Homo sapiens: one gene and its partners. The protein of the gene in region 2 purifies or fractionates together with the protein of the main gene of each other region. This does not show direct contact. Each region holds a gene or a part of one and is shown on either strand. Other genes may lie near its edges.

Region 1 (3,790 bases), on a different chromosome or scaffold from region 2:
CGCTGGGACCACCTTGGGCCTCCCATAGGATTCCTGCCATGGTGTCCCCAGCAGGAAGTCCTCGCCCTTCACTCTGTCTTCACCCCGCTGGCACACCCCATGCATCTCCATTATGGGGGGCAGTCTCCTCCTCCTCTGCTTCCAGGAGAGTCTTTTCCCATGTGTGGGCTCCACTCCCTGAGCCGGCCCCCTGGGCCTGGGCTTTCCTTGGTGCACCCCCAAACCAGAACCAGTGGACGCCCTGGCCTGTGGCCTGGCGGCAGGTCAGGGGGCCTGGAGTCAGCTCTCTCCGCTTGGCAAGCGTGCACTGATGAGGACTGACGGCACTCCCATGCTGAGAGGCCCCGTGTGGGCTGGGAGTGTCTGCTATCATCTTCCCGTGGGGTTCAGCTGGATGTTTTTCCCACAAAATGGAGAACGTGTTCCATGCCCAGCATGGTGTAGACTCAAGGGGCCCCAAGATTCAGAGGGAAATGGGCCCCTGGGCAATTCTGGCTCCCACAGAGGAGAGAGGCCGTGTGTGAGTGAATTCAGCCACTGGTGGGGCAGGGCTGCCAGACCCAGGTGGAGCCCACAATGCTGCAGATGTGGCTGGGCGGCTTTGCACAGGGGGTGACCTGCTGCCGGCCTCTGGAGCCCAGCAGAACATCAGTCCAGGCACCGGCTCCTGGTTTCGATTGTCATTTCTATTGTAAGCTTTTTTCTGTTTTTTTGTTTTTTGTTTTTTTTTTTTTGTTTTTTTTTTTGTAGATTTAAGGGGTACAAGTGCAGTCAGAGTGTAGCCATCACCCGAATGGTGCACACTGTACCCAGTAGGTAGTTTCCCCCACCTCCAAGTCTGCAGCATCTGCTCCTCCACTCCGTGTGCCGCGTGCACCAGCTTGGACATCAGCTGGCTTTGAGCCTGGGAAGCGGGAAGGACGCTCGGCTAGCGTCTGTAGAAAGACTGAGGAATATTAGGAGAGGGTCCTGTGGTCAGTAAATTGTGGGGTGGGGAGGTACCCAGAAGACTGAGGAGGAGCCCTCAGGGAGGGCAGAGAGGACAGGTGTTGGAGAAGCCAGGAAGGGTTTAGAAGGAAGGTGAGTTGACCTGGAAATGGGGACCCACAGGGTTTGTGTGAAGATGCAATTTGGGCTTTCAGCTGAGACATTGTGGCATGTGGGCGGGTGGGTGGGTGTTGGGTCTCATACACCCACCTGCATTCACCCCGCTGAGTGGCCCACCCGTCCATGCCTTGGCCAAGCTCCCTGCCCAGGTTTGGCCTGGCTACAAGGCTTCAGGGAGGTCCCTCCTGTCCCCCCAACCTGCCAGCACATGGCCTGCATGCTGTGGGGGTCTGCCCACATGGGGGTTGCAGGAGAGCAGCCTCAGCAGCTCTGTGTTGATGTGAGCTGTGTGCTGGTTTGAGAGGGACAGGTGGGGATGGCTTTGCACCCTTGGCCCCCGGTTGGGTAGGGGAACCCAACCCGGGTTCCCAGCACCCAGGCCGAATGGACAGGGGTTGCACAGTGGAGGTAAAGGCTTGAGTGACTCCCAGGAATCCACCCACTGGGGCTCTGGCTGCTGTGGACTCTGGGGCCCTGGCTGCTATGGACTCTGGGGTCCTGGCTGCCCCCTTCAGCAGGCCCTGCTTGTAGCCGCAGAGTGGTTTTGTTCAAGTCAATGCTGCCCCTGGAGGGCCCGTGTTCTGTGCAGAGACCAAACCCCCTTGTCGAGGCCAAGGTTCTCCTCTACCCCCAAGCCCTTCTCCTGCCGCCCCTGCACCCGGCCTTGTGACAGCCACCACCTGTTTCCAAATGACACCAGGGGTGGGCCGCCCACCCCAGGTAGAATAACCAAGGTGGAGCTGCTCCCAGCTGCCTTGCTCACACCAGCACCATCTGCCCCTGCCCTGTGCACACCCCTCCCTCACCCTGCGCACTCCCCCTGTGTCTACCAACAAATTCTTCTTGGGCTTCAGAACCCTACCAAGAGTCTCCTCTTTATTTATTTATTTATGAATTATTTATTGAGACAGGGTCTCACTCTGTCGCCCAGGCTAGAGTACAGTGATGTGATTATGACTGCAGCCTCGATGTCCTGGGCTGAAGCGATCCTTCCATCTCAGTCCCCTGAGTAGGTGGGACTGTAGGCACACACCACCAAGCTCAGCTAATTTTAAAATTTTTTTTTAGAGATGGGACCTTGCTGTGTTGCCCAGGCTGGTCTTGAACTCCTGGACTCAAGTGATCTGCCTGCCTTGGCCTCCCAAAGTGCTGGCCTCCTTTTTAAAAAATTTTTGGGGCCTAGAGTGTGTTGTTGTCCCCCTAGACAGAATTAACTACCCGTATGTGTGGAAATCTTCCTTTGCCATTTCTCCTACATGTAGGGAAACCCTTGTCTGGGATTATGTCTTACTGACCTCTGCATCCTGGCCTGGTAGCTGGCACCACGTGTGTTAGAATGAACATGGTGTGGGATCGTCTATTTGACAGTGTGGGTTAAATCCTTGCAGTGCACTGAAGACTGCTCTAAGAGATACAAGACCGTGTCTCCTAAGAGCTGATGTTCCAATACCTGGGTGTATCACGCCAGCTCGGGCTGCCACATTTAGTACCACCTGCCAGGAGGCTTCCCCAGCAGAGACTGATTGTCTCCCAGTCCTGCACACTGGAAGACTGAGGTCAAAGCTGGTTCCCCCTGAGGCCTATCTCTTGGGCCTGTAGATGCCTTTTCTTCCCTGTATCCTCACAGGGTCTCCCCTCTGTGGGTGTCTGTGTCCTAGTCGCCCCTTCTTATGAGACTCAAGTTATTTTGGATTGCAGCCCACCCTAATGGCCTCATTTTACTATGATTTCCTCTTTAAAAGCCCTTTTTTCTAATAGTCAAGTTCTGAAGTCCTGAAGTTTCTGGCTTCAACATACGGATTTGGCGGGATGGACACAATTCGGGCCCTAACATGGAGTCAGATGCTATCACGTATCAGGCAGTGACACAGGAAGGACGCACGCCCAAGAGTGGGGCTGAGCAGGGAGCCTGCAGGGCAGGTGGAGCTGGGAGAGGAAGCAGTGCAACCACAGGGTTGGGCTCCAGCTGGGGTGGAGGTGCCCCTATGCTGAAGGCTGGGATGTGTGCCTGTCCTGTCCTTGGCACCCAGAGGCGCCCACTTGGGGCTCTGGGTGAGTGAGCCAACAGCCAGATGCCCTACATCCAAGTGTCAGGCAGAAGTGGGCCTTGGTCCGCAGGGCTGGGCTGCACCCCATTGGTGATGCCTCCTGGCACACATGTCAGAGCCTCTGTCCAGCATTCCTGTGTCTGAGCCTTGCTGCGGGTGGTTTATGGCCCCCTGTGTGTGTTTTTGCTGCCTGACGCTCAAATGTAGGAGAGGGGGACGGGGCGAGGCTCCAGGGGCGGGGAGGGGACTCCAGGAGCAAGCGATGGTCACTGACACCGAGTGTGCTGTTTCTCCTCCCCACATAGGACATCAAGGACGCCCTGCGCAGGTACGAACCCAGCCTCTCCTGGAGGGGGGGCAGGAGGGAGTGGGGTGGGACCCAGCTGTTGGCCATGGCGACAACACCTGGGTTGTCCCCTCTAGGGTCCAGGATGTGAAGCTGCAGCCCCCAGAAGTTGTGCCTATGGAGCTGAGGACCGTGTGCAGGGTCCCGGGACTGGTAGAGACACTGCGGAGGTTTCGAGGTAGGTGTGGAGGCCCCAGGTGGGGAGATGACTCCAGGAGGGGACCTGCCAAGGACCTGGGCAGCCAGCCACGTGTTCTGTGCCCTGCCACTGCCAGCTCCAAACTCACAG
Region 2 (4,081 bases):
AGGAGCCCAGAAATAAGCACATATAAATATAGCAGTTGCTTTTCAAGTTAATGGAGAAAAGATGAGTTTTTAAATAAATGGTTAACTTATTCTTTTTTTTTGCGGGGGGAGACAGAGTCTTGCTCTGTTGCCCAGGCTTGAGTGAAGTAAAACCATCATAGCTTACTGCAGCCTTGAACTCCTAGGCAAAAGTGATCCTCCCACTTCAGCCTCCTGAGTAGTTGGGACTATAGGCATGTGCCACCACATCCAGTTAATTTTTAACTAAATTTTTTTTCGTATAGATGAGATCTCACCATGTTGCCAGGGCTGGTCTTGAACTCCTGGCCTCAAGCAGTCCTCCTACCTTGGCCTCCCAGAGTGTTGCAATTACAGGCATGAACCACTGCTCCTGGCCTCAATAGTTAACTATTGAGGAGGATCAAAAGGATATCTGATTTGTTTCTCATTCCAAAATAAATTCCAGTTTGGTCAGACTTGTATATTTTCAATATTAATCATAAACATTCTAGAAGAAAACATGTATAAAGACCTTTTTTCTAAGTCTAGCAAACCCAAAAGTCCTAAAGGGGAAATGACAAGCTTGTATAAAAATTGGAAAATTCTGTATCACCAAAACAGCTTTTTTGGAAAAAACAGATAAACTAGAAAACAACATGTGCAATATGATCTGGTTTCTGCCTAAGTCATCAGCTCCATCTGCTGCATTCCCTCCTCCCCATCAATTCTACACACACTTACAGCTACACTCTGGTCTTTCCTTCCTGAGGATGCTCAGTAAATAGTCATTGAATAAATGAATTAATTCCATGACAGTTTGCAGGTCAATATGTATAATATAATAAAACCTTTTTTTTTTTTATGAGATGGAGTTTCAGTCTGTCACCCAGTCTGGAGGGCAGTGGCATGATCTCGGCTCACTGCAACCTCCATCTCCCGAGTTCAAATGATCCTCTCACCTCAGCCCCCCGAGTACTTAGAATTACCAGTGCGCACCACCACACCTGGCTAACTTTTGTATTTTTAGTAGACATGGGTTTCACCGTGTTGGCCAGACTGGTCTTGAACTCTTGATCCCAAGTAATCTGCCCTCCTTGGCCTCCCAAAGTGCTGTGATTACAGGCATGAGCCACTACCCCTGGCCACAATAAAACTTCTTAAAATGAGTAAAGAAGATTAACAGTCCATTTAAAGTTGCCAGAGAACAAGTTGGGCAAGTCAGGAAAAGAAATGCAAATGGCTAACAAATATAAAACTTTTAATAAATACCAATTAAAACAGCATTGAGATTCTGTTTCCCTTCTTGAACACTACCTCCTCATTTCTAACCATTTCCCTGGTGTCTTCCCAAAATGTCAACAAACCATACTGTGATCTCCTTTTAGGTCTTCCCTCTGTCTAGCATATACCTGGCATATGTTAGTTGCATTGTTATATAAACAAAAGTATTTAAGATATGTAATGAACCTCTAAGAGGCGTCAAGTGGGCAGAAGAGTAGAGGATTGGGGCTGCATGACCTTGCCTTTTTAAACTCCCCTTTTCCTCATAGTTCCCTTGATGGTGTTAACCTGCCTGTTTATTCTCTTTGCCCTTTTACATTTCTTCAGAAGGACATGCTCCTTAGTGGCAGGAACAGGAACTTCTTCCAGTGCTGGTCAGCCAGCAAAAATGACTCTTTTTTGTGTATGTAAATAAATGGCTGTTATTGTTGTGATACAATTGCTTAATCATTAATAGGTCCTTTTTTTGAAGTCCTGTGAATAGTTTTATTCAGACTTAATACCACAGCATCTCAGATACCTTATCTTCCTTTGAGTGTTATGGAAAAATAGACTAAAACTGCTCTCTCTATACAAAAGTTTGTGTTATTTGAAAAGATACAACAGGCATGCCTAGTGTTTATTTTAAGATAAGATTATAATATCTGCATAGTAGAAACCTCCAGCTTTTAGAGTTATGATTTTGTAATCTGAAATCCTATTTTTTGAGTCTAATATTTACTTGTGCTAGCAAGTCTAGAAATACTTGTTGAAAGACTGGAATGATTAATGTAGATCCTTGAACACTTTCATGCTCTAAAAAAGACAAATTTTGTTTGTTTTAAAGAAGAGTAGTGTAGCCATATTAAACACATTTGGAAAATAAGAGGGAAAACCCGACTCAATCTCATCTGAAAAAATTGTGATAGACTTTTAAAAAATAGTTTCCAAATTTGTATTTATGTGGTTAAAATTAGGTATCTTGCCTTTCTTCCCCACTTGATAAATCCTTAGTATTTTTCCATGTTGTTATATCATTTAAAGACCGTCACTTTAAATGGCTGCATAATAGTCTCTTAGTCACATGGTCCTATTGTATGTGCAGTGCTTATGAATAAGAGTGGGTGGTACGTTGTTTCTTTAAAAATGTGACTCATAACAAAAATTTATTCTAAGAAAATTGCTAATCATATGGATTTTGATAAATAGGAGAATGATGACCTTATTGCAAAGCAGTGACTTTTTGTTTGTAAACATATGAACCTGAAACTTGAGGAAGTTGGTTGTCAGTTGTGAGTATTATACCATCTATTAGATAGATATTTTGAGACGTTACAAACAAGTTGGGTAGCTGCTTATTTTTGAAGGGAGATTTTTGTTGTGAATCTTAATGTTAACATTATGTTATTTTATAGATCATGGAGCTTTGTGGTGCAACAAGACTTGGTTATTTTGGAAGAAGTCAGTTCTACATTGCTTTGAAACTTGTAGCTGTTGCCCAGTCTGGTTTCCCTTTAAGAGTGGAAAGTATAAATACAGGTAAATATAGAGTACACTAGTAACCGAAAGAAAATAGGCTTCTATTACAAATGAAGTCAAGTCAATAGAACTCTTGTGTCTTTCTGATCTTATAGTGGCATTTGTGACCTTGAGTGAAGTGTCGTGACTTTATTCCCACTACCTTGCATTTCTCACTTGAAAATACTAGAAAAATATGTCTGACCTGTATTACGGCATAGTATATGTACTTCATCTGTATTTGACTATATGTACTGTTCAAATGGCAATTTTTTAAGAATTAATTTACCAAAAGTTGTTTAGAAATATTTTAGGCGAATAGTTTTATTAAGGTAAATGATAAATTACAGCGACCATCTTCATGTATAGCGTCCCTGTGTTCTTCATTTCCAATAAAACAACATTATACTTTGTATTTTTGTTTGTTTGTTTGTTTGGGAAGGCTGTGGAGGCTTCAGTTGAAATTAAGAAGTAACAGTTAACCTAAACTTTTTGATCGATAAGAGACAATATTAAAATATTGGCAGACTAAAATCTAGTTATAGACATCTGACCACATTACAAGTTTGTATTAGTCCATTTTAACACTGCTATAAAGAAATCCCTGAGACTGGGTAATGTATAAACAAGAGAGGTTTAATTGACTCACTTCTGCATAGCTCGGGAGGCCACAGGAAACCTACAATCGTGGCAGAACGTAAATGGAAAGCAAGGCACATCTTATGTGGCCACAGGAGAGAGAGAGAGAGAGAGAGAGAGAGAGAGAGAGAGAGAGCAAGGGGGAATAGCCACAGACATTTAAACCATCAGATCTCATGAGAACTTGCTCACTATCACAAGAGCAGCATGGGGGAACCGCCCCCATGATCTAATCACCTCCCATGTGGGAATTACAATTCAAGATGAGATTTGGGTGGGAACACAGAGTCAAACCATATCGAAGTGTTACATCAGATAATTTGTTTTTCAAGTATTTAGAGGCTTGTTGATGTGAAAGAAGATAGAAATTCTATAAAGAAAGGCACTTAAATGCAGAGGGTTCTTTCATTTTCATAGAGTAAAGGGGAAAGAGAAAAATTAAGATTTTAAAAATAATCTGTACAGAAAAATTTCTGTAAAATTCTGTAAATATCAGAATTTGTAGAAATAGTTTTAAGTACCAGTTTAGTTTATTGGTCGGTAGAGGTTTTCATTGTGGACCTCTAGTTTGCCACACATCATTCTTCTAGTGTTGGGAGTTTACATTCTTTTCAGGTAATTTTGAATTCTTTTACATGTATATTGAATAAGCTTAATAGTTTCC
Region 3 (3,790 bases), on a different chromosome or scaffold from region 2:
CTAAGGCACAAGAATTGTTTGAACCCAGGAAGTGGAGGTTGAGCTGAGATCGTGCCACCACTCCAGCCTGGGCAACAGAGCAAGACTCTGACTCAAAAAAAAAAACCACGAAAATTTTAAAATATATTTTTACAAAACAGGAAAATATGATCTGTGTTCACAAAAAAAGGCAATGAATGGGCCCGGCACAGTGGCTCACGCCTGTAATCCCAGCACTTTGGGAGGCTGAGGTGGGTGGATCACGAGGTCAGGAGTTCGAGACCAGCCTGACCAACATGGTGAAACCCCATCTCTACTAAAAATACTAAAATTAGCTGGACGTGGTGGCGCACACCTGTAATCCCAGCTACTCAGGAAGCTGAGGCAGGAGAATTGCTTCAACCTGGGAGGAAGAGGTTGCAGTGAGCCGAGGTTACACCATTGCACTCCAGCCTGGGCAACAGAGCGAGACTCTGTCTCAAGAAAAAAAAAAAAAAGAACGAAAATTTTAAAATATATTTTTACAAAACAGGAAAATATGATCTGTGTTTACAAAAAAAGGCAATGAACGGGCCCGGCGCAGTGGCTCACGCCGGTAATCCCAGCACTTTGGGAGGCCAAGGCAGGCGGATCACGAGGTCAGCAGATCGAGACCATCCTGGCTAACATGGTGAAACCCCGTCTCTGCTAAAAATACAAAAAATTAGCTGGGCGTGGTGGCGGGTGCCTGTAGTCCCAGCTACTTGGGAGGCTGAGGCAGGAGAATGGCGTGAACCTGGGAGGCGGAGCTTGCAGTGAGCTGAGATCGCACCACTGCACTCCAGCCTGGGTGACAGAGCAAGACTCTGTCTCAAAAAAAAAAAAAAAAGGCAATCAACGAAGATCAACCCCAAGAGGACCCAGATGTTGGTATCAACTGACAAGAATTCTAAAAGAGAATCAAAATAATTAGTTAAAATAAATTTTTTTAAAAATTTAAAGCAGTTATTAAAACTTCGTCAGGCCAGGTGTGGTGGCTCACACCTATAATCCCAACAATTTGGGAGGCTGAGTCGGGAGGATCGCCTGAGCCCAGGAGTTAAAGACCAGCCTGGGCAACATAGTGAGACCCCATCTCTACAAAAAGTTTAAAAATTAGCTGGACAGGCACAGTGGCTCACGCCTGTAATCCCAGTACTTTTTGGGAGGCTGAGGCAGGCAGATCACCTGAGGTCAAGAGTTGGAGACCAGCCTGGCCAACATGGTTAAACCCTGTCTCTACTAAAAATACAAAAATTAGCTGGGTGCGGTAGCTGGCACCTGCAATCCCAGCTACCTGGGAGGCTGATGCAGGAGAATTGCTTGAAACTTGGAGGTGGAGATTGCAGTGAGCCAAGATCGCACCACTGCACTCCAGCCTGGGCAACAGAGCAAGACTCCGTCTCTAAAAACAAAAAACAAAAAAACACAAAAGGTGCAGGGGAAAGAAAGAAAGAAAAGATGTGGCCTTCTAAGTCAGTGGGAACACGAGCATGCTAGGAGTCAAAAAGTTTAGGGTACTGGGCGTTACCTCAGCATTCCTAAGAATGCTTGAAACCTTGCTGGAATTGCTGAGCCTCTCAGGGTTTGGGACAGTTTTGTTTACATGATAGAATTGTGATAAGATTAGCTGGCACCCTCGGACTCTGATAAAACCAGCCACTTGGCCTGGAAGTGCAGTGTCCCCTCATCTGGCCTTCCAATTCATTATGGTTCCAACCCCAGGGCCTCATTCCCACTTGCTTTGCACCAGCAGGCTTGGCATTTGTTCTCAGAAGGTCACAGAAACCTTTGCTTCTACTTAGAACATGTTTCCTGGGGAAGTTTAGACTTATGACTGACCAGATCCAGAGATAGCAGCACTTTGATGTAAAATCATAGGAAGAGCTTGTTCTCTCAGACAAGCCACTACCCAGTAGGCAAAGCTCAAACGAGAGCCCTTAAATGGTGTGGTCTTTGGCCAGGCCATCATCGTGGGGTTATTCCTAGGTTTGGCAAGCGTCAGCATTTCTTTTGCTTGTGCGATTGGCTCTTTTGCTCAGTGTAACAGCAGACCCCTGGCCTCCAGATGAGAAGGGCCACTAGCGTTCACTAAGTGCATGCTCTGGGCCGGCCACTGCCTAGGACCTTTCTTAGATAGTTGATCATCAAGTAGGTGCTCTTGTTTTAATTTTATTGAGACCCAGAAAGGTTAAATAATTCATCCAGGGTGAGTGTGAGGCTTTATGAGAACTTTACAGTTGTTCTCTCCCTTCCCCCTCCTTGGACTATTCCTGGAACATGAAGGTCCAGTTCCTTTCCCTGATGGCTGTATGGCAGGTGGCGTACTTCATTTCTTTGTGGGAAATTATACTTGTATTGATGCTGGGCATGCTGCTCGCCTCTTCAGTGTTTTCCCAAGTAAGGTCTGACAAATGGGGATCCAAGCCCTCCTGTATTTCAGGCTTTATTTTGGGTACCAAGATGCAAAGACAATCCATTAAGACAGTTCTTGGCCGCTCATGGTGACTCATGCCTGTCATCCCAGCACTTTAAGGAGGCTGAGGCGGGAGGATTGCCTGCGCCCAGGAGTTTGAGATCATCCTGGGCAACAAGGCAAGACCTCATCTCTACAAAAATATTTAAAAATTAGCTGGGTGTGATGGTACATGCCTATAGTCTCAGCTACTTGGGAGGCTGAGGTGGGAGGATCACTTGAGCCTGGGAGGTGCAGGCTACAGGGAGCCGAGATTGGGCCACTGCACTCCAGCTTGGGTGACAGAGTGAGACCCTGTCTCAAAAAAAAAAAAAAAAAAAAAAAAGACTTAGTTCTTCTACTTTTAAGGGGCTTGAAGTCTGAGTAGAAGACTCTTCCACACATAGAAAGCAGTCTTAAAAGGGTGTGTGTGCTCTGATTGTGGTTATATAACATTTACAGAAGGTGGATACAGAATGAAAATCACTTGAGGTTGTTGGGATTTGCTTTAAAACATCCTTTAATGTTGCATTTTTCTTTCACCTTAATTAGGGGAAAAAGGGAGATAATTGGAAACAGGGGTGACCAGAGTGCTCTGGGGAGGCAGAGGTTCTGTAATAACTGTTGGTAGCCAAGGAGGCCACAAAGAAGAGAGGATGTTTGCGTGGTAAGAGTGTGTTGCCATTCGCCAGATACGTGCCAGAGGCAAGGGACATCAAGGCAGTGGGCACAGTTAGATGGTCCACTTTGAAAGTTCGTGGCTGATGGGATCCAGGGATAGCAAGAGCTTATTGTGAAATTACAAAATGAGGTGGTTCTGCCAGGCTAGGCACTACCCAGTAGGCACAGTGATCTTCCAGACCACGTGGTCAGCTCTCTCCCTGAAAGTTTCAACCTCTGTGTGTTGTGTGTCTATCTGTGTGTCTTTGTCAGCAAAAGCTTTTATGAGATACACACCATTTTTTCTTGTTATATGTACATGGGATATCTTTAAAGGAATACCCAAGAAACAACTAGTTGCCTGTAGCGATAGGAGATTTCGTTGTATTTCAAAAATAATCTGAATTTTTTTACTACGTGCATATATTGTTTACTCAGTTTTGTGTGTGTGTGTGTTTTTCTAGAGAAACAGACTTTTTTTTTTTTTTTTTTTTTTTGAGACAGAGTCTTGCTCTGTCACCCAGGCTGGAGTGCAGTGGCGTAATCTCGGCTCACTGCAACCTCCACCTCCTGGGTTCAAGCGATTCTCCTGCCTCAGCCTCCTGAGTAGCTGGGACTGCAGGTGTTCCTGAGTAGCTGGGACTACAGGCGCACACCACCACACCTGGCTAATTTTTG
Region 4 (3,790 bases), on a different chromosome or scaffold from region 2:
GTTCGACAGTGGAGAGAAATAAAATTGTGACATGGTGAAATGTACCAGAGAGGACTTCTTGAAAAATAACTCTTTAAGCAGAATAATAAAGAATTGACTTTAAGGAAGTGAAACGGAACGGCCTTTCAGGGGTGGCAGGAGCCGAGACCCAAATGATGGGAAGATGACAGGGGAGGGGTGGCCCCAGGAAGAGGGCACAGCTTGTGTGAAGGCCCTTGAGGCAAGAGGATGTGCGTGTTCCCGGAGCAAAATGGAGGCCAGGGGGCCTGGATGGACAGTAGGGGTCTGAGGGGTGACACCGGCAGGGTTGCTGTGACAGGGGCAGAGGACTTGATGGGCCGTGGAGTGGAGCACCCCCAGCTGGCATCACAGAGCCCAGGATATGGAAACACGAGGGAGGCAAGAAGGCTGGAGGGGAGGCTGCTTCACTGACCTGAGCGAGCGAGCATGGGATCTGGATGAAGTGGTCATCGTGGAGGTGCTCAAGACATGTTCTGAAGGTCAAGTTAGGAGGAGGTGGCTGGGCACAGTGGCTCATACCTGTAATCCCAGCATTTTGGGAGGCTGAGGTGGGAGGATCGCTGGATCCCAGGAGTTTAAGGTCACAGTGAGCTATGATTGCACCACTGCACTGCAGCCTGGGCGACAGTCTAAGACCCTGTCTCAAAAATTAAAAGGACGAGGCAGTAGCCCGATTGGCGTGAGGATGTCCAGGTTCTGTTTGGAGGAGAAGAGGGAACGGTAGAACCTGTCAAGGGAGGGATGAAGTCTGGGGTGAGTGGAACAGGGACAGGAGAAGCAGAGAGGGCAGCCGAGAGCATCCAGTCGGATTGTGCTCTGAAGGGGGTGCTGTAGGGCATTGAGGAGCATGGAGGAAGCAGAGACCTGGCCTGCAGGATCAGGGGAGGCTTTCTGTGCTTATTCCACAAGCAGGTCCTGTCAGAGGTGTAGGAATGTCCCAGACAAATTGGGGAGAGGTTGGCAGCCAGAGAACAGGAGGCAGTGGGGACAGGCCACGCGGGAGAGGACAAAGCCATGGCTGTGGGGACAAAGGGGGTGAGGACAGCACCCAAGGGTCTGACCTGGTGACTGGGTGGACAGTGGGACCTTCATGGGATTGAGAACTGGAAGAGGCAGTGAGCTCAGTGGTAGGGGTGAGCACCCTGCGGCCAGCCAAGCTCTTTATTCATTCATTCATTCATCACATGTTCATCGCATGTGGGGAGTGGGGACAGGAGCTCTCAGGGAGCGTGTCTGGGGCCCTGAGGAGCCCCACAAATCAGGGGCCACAGTGGTAGGAGGAAGGAGAGAGGAAGTCAGGGACAGCCCAAGGGTGTGTGCTCTGTGCTGTGGGGCTCAGCCAGCGGTGGTTCTTCCCTCTTTGAAACTCCCAGCCAGAGAAGGGGTCCTGGCCTGTCCTGAGCCCCAGGGCTTGGGGGCGGAGAAGATCTGCCCTTCCTGCTGGGTGGGGCCGCGCCTAGGAAAGAGAGGGCAGGTGGCTGACTCCCCAGACCCCTCACTGCCTACCCTCCTCCTCCTCTCCCAGGTAAGAGCAAAGAGGCGGAAATTAAGAGAATCAACAAGGAACTGGCCAACATCCGCTCCAAGTTCAAAGGTAGGCTGGGGGCCCAACTTCTGGTTCTGAGGGAGGAGGGGGCTGGGAGCTGGGGCTCCTGTGACCTATCCTGTGACCCTTCCTTATTTCTGGCTCCCCTTTCCTCCTTCCTCTGCCCTAGGAGACAAAGCCTTGGATGGCTACAGTAAGAAAAAATATGTGTGTAAACTGCTTTTCATCTTCCTGCTTGGCCATGACATTGACTTTGGGCACATGGAGGCTGTGAATCTGTTGAGTTCCAATAAATACACAGAGAAGCAAATAGTGAGTCTGGAGAGGGGGGTGCCAGGGCCTGGACTCCTGGGTCTGCGGGGGAGGGGGCTGGAGGTCTGGACTCCTGGATCTGGGGGAGGAGGGGGTCTAGGGGTCTGGACTCCTGGGTATGAGGGAGGAGGGGGTCTGGGGCTCTGGACTGCTGGGTCTGAGGGAGGAGGGGGCTGGGGGTCTGGACTCCCCATTCTGAGGGAGGAGGGCTGGAAGCCCAGACTCCTGGGTCTGAGGGTTGAATCTGGGGCCTGGACTCGTGGGTCTGAGGGAGGAGGGGCCTGGGGGCCTGGACTTGTGGGTCTGAGGGAGGAGGGGCCTGGGGGCCTGGACTCCTGGGTCTGAGGTTGAATCTGGGGCCTGGACTCCTGGGTCTGAGGGTTGGATCTGGGGCCACTCAGTCACAAGGCTCCTAGCCATCCACGACCTCCCTCCCCACAGGGTTACCTGTTCATTTCTGTGCTGGTGAACTCGAACTCGGAGCTGATCCGCCTCATCAACAACGCCATCAAGAATGACCTGGCCAGCCGCAACCCCACCTTCATGTGCCTGGCCCTGCACTGCATCGCCAACGTGGGCAGCCGGGAGATGGGCGAGGCCTTTGCCGCTGACATCCCCCGCATCCTGGTGGCCGGGTAAGGCACTGGGGACCCGTTGGCAGTGGGGGGCCTGGGGGTGATGAGTCCCAGCCAAGTGTGAGGCTCAGAGAGGCTCTGTTGCCTGCCCAAGGTCTCCCAGCCGAGATGTGGGCTAACGCTGGGCTGGGGACCCAGTGGTTCCGGTGGCAGCCCCATACTTGTCTCTTCCCGTGATACGAAGCTGACTTGATGGTGTGAGGCTGCTCCCGGCAAAGCCAGTGGGGTGTTTCTGAACTGCAGAATTCTAACACCTACGATAAGAGGCGTAACTGTGCTATGTGGGTGACGGCCCTCCAGAACTTCCTCATCTTCTCCATTCATTCACCAAACATTTACTGAGCACATACTATGTGCCAGGCACTGTGCTGATTGCTGGGGATGTTGTATTGTCCAGAGATGGACACGGTCATTGCCCTCCTGTGTTCATGGTCTGGAGCAGGAGACAAATGGTGATGGAAGAATTGCAGGATGAAGTGTAGAATTTGCCAGGTGCGATGGCTCATGTAATCGCTGCATTTGGGGAGGCTGAGGCAGGTAGATTGCTTGAGTCTAGGAGTTTGAGACCAGCCTGGGCAACATGGCAAAATCCCAATCTCTACTAAAAATACCAAAAATTGCCAGGGCATGGTGGCGTGCACCTATAGTCCCAGCTACTCGGGAAGCTGAGGTGGGAGGATCTCCTGAGCTGGGGAGGCCTAGGCTGCAATGAGTTGTGGTTGCGCCAGTGTACTCCAGCTTGGTGTGCACACAGGTGAGACTTCTATTTCTGGCAGTGTGGTCAGCTAGATACCCGACTCATGTTCTCCCTGAAACCTAACTGTCAATATTGGATAAAAGAGGAAAGACAATATTATTTAATGGATTCATGAGGTAGCCAGAAAATGAGGAGCACACAGGCCACAAGCTAAGAGAAGCCGGGCACCCAAGCAGATGAGCCGCGTGCTGGAGCCAGCATTTGCTTAGAAGGCATTTGCTGAACTGGGTGAACCCGAGTATCGGTTTTGGGGCCCTGCAGCCTCTGGGAACAGAAGACAAAGCTTGTCCGAGAAGTTCTCGAAGGCTGTACTTCAAAGTGAGAGTGACCTAGAAATAAACCCCCTTGGGGACTATGAGGAAAATTACCTGTCTGAAACGTTGGCACGGAGCAGCCCTCAGACTGGTTTTCAGCCTGACTTTACCCTATCTGGGTAGTCCAAAAGCCCCTAAGTCAACCTTTAGTTTAAAGTGATGGAAACTGGAGGTTCCCTAGTGCTTCACAGAAGCAAACACGAGC

Evidence for each region.
Region 1: the proteins of REPS1 (region 2) and TRIM11 purify together in Homo sapiens (affinity purification with mass spectrometry; one large-scale study listed by BioGRID and IntAct). This does not show direct contact.
Region 3: the proteins of REPS1 (region 2) and SGF29 purify together in Homo sapiens (affinity purification with mass spectrometry; 3 studies listed by BioGRID and IntAct, with this or other methods). This does not show direct contact.
Region 4: the proteins of REPS1 (region 2) and AP2A1 purify together in Homo sapiens (co-immunoprecipitation; 2 studies listed by BioGRID and IntAct, with this or other methods). This does not show direct contact.

The regions. Positions count from the first base shown.
Region 1 is NC_000001.11:228,396,836-228,400,625, reverse strand, and holds part of TRIM11 (E3 ubiquitin-protein ligase TRIM11), read left to right. Parts: intron 1-3,460; coding exon 3,461-3,483; intron 3,484-3,516; exon of another isoform or gene 3,517-3,578; coding exon 3,579-3,679; exon of another isoform or gene 3,680-3,790.
Region 2 is NC_000006.12:138,946,508-138,950,588, reverse strand, and holds part of REPS1 (ralBP1-associated Eps domain-containing protein 1), read left to right. Parts: intron 1-2,675; coding exon 2,676-2,799; intron 2,800-4,081. UniProt on the Homo sapiens protein: May coordinate the cellular actions of activated EGF receptors and Ral-GTPases.
Region 3 is NC_000016.10:28,560,130-28,563,919, forward strand, and holds part of SGF29 (SAGA-associated factor 29), read left to right. Parts: intron 1-3,790. UniProt on the Homo sapiens protein: Chromatin reader component of some histone acetyltransferase (HAT) SAGA-type complexes like the TFTC-HAT, ATAC or STAGA complexes.
Region 4 is NC_000019.10:49,780,211-49,784,000, forward strand, and holds part of AP2A1 (AP-2 complex subunit alpha-1), read left to right. Parts: intron 1-194; exon of another isoform or gene 195-382; coding exon of another isoform or gene 383-500; intron 501-1,546; coding exon 1,547-1,615; intron 1,616-1,736; coding exon 1,737-1,879; intron 1,880-2,320; coding exon 2,321-2,514; intron 2,515-3,790.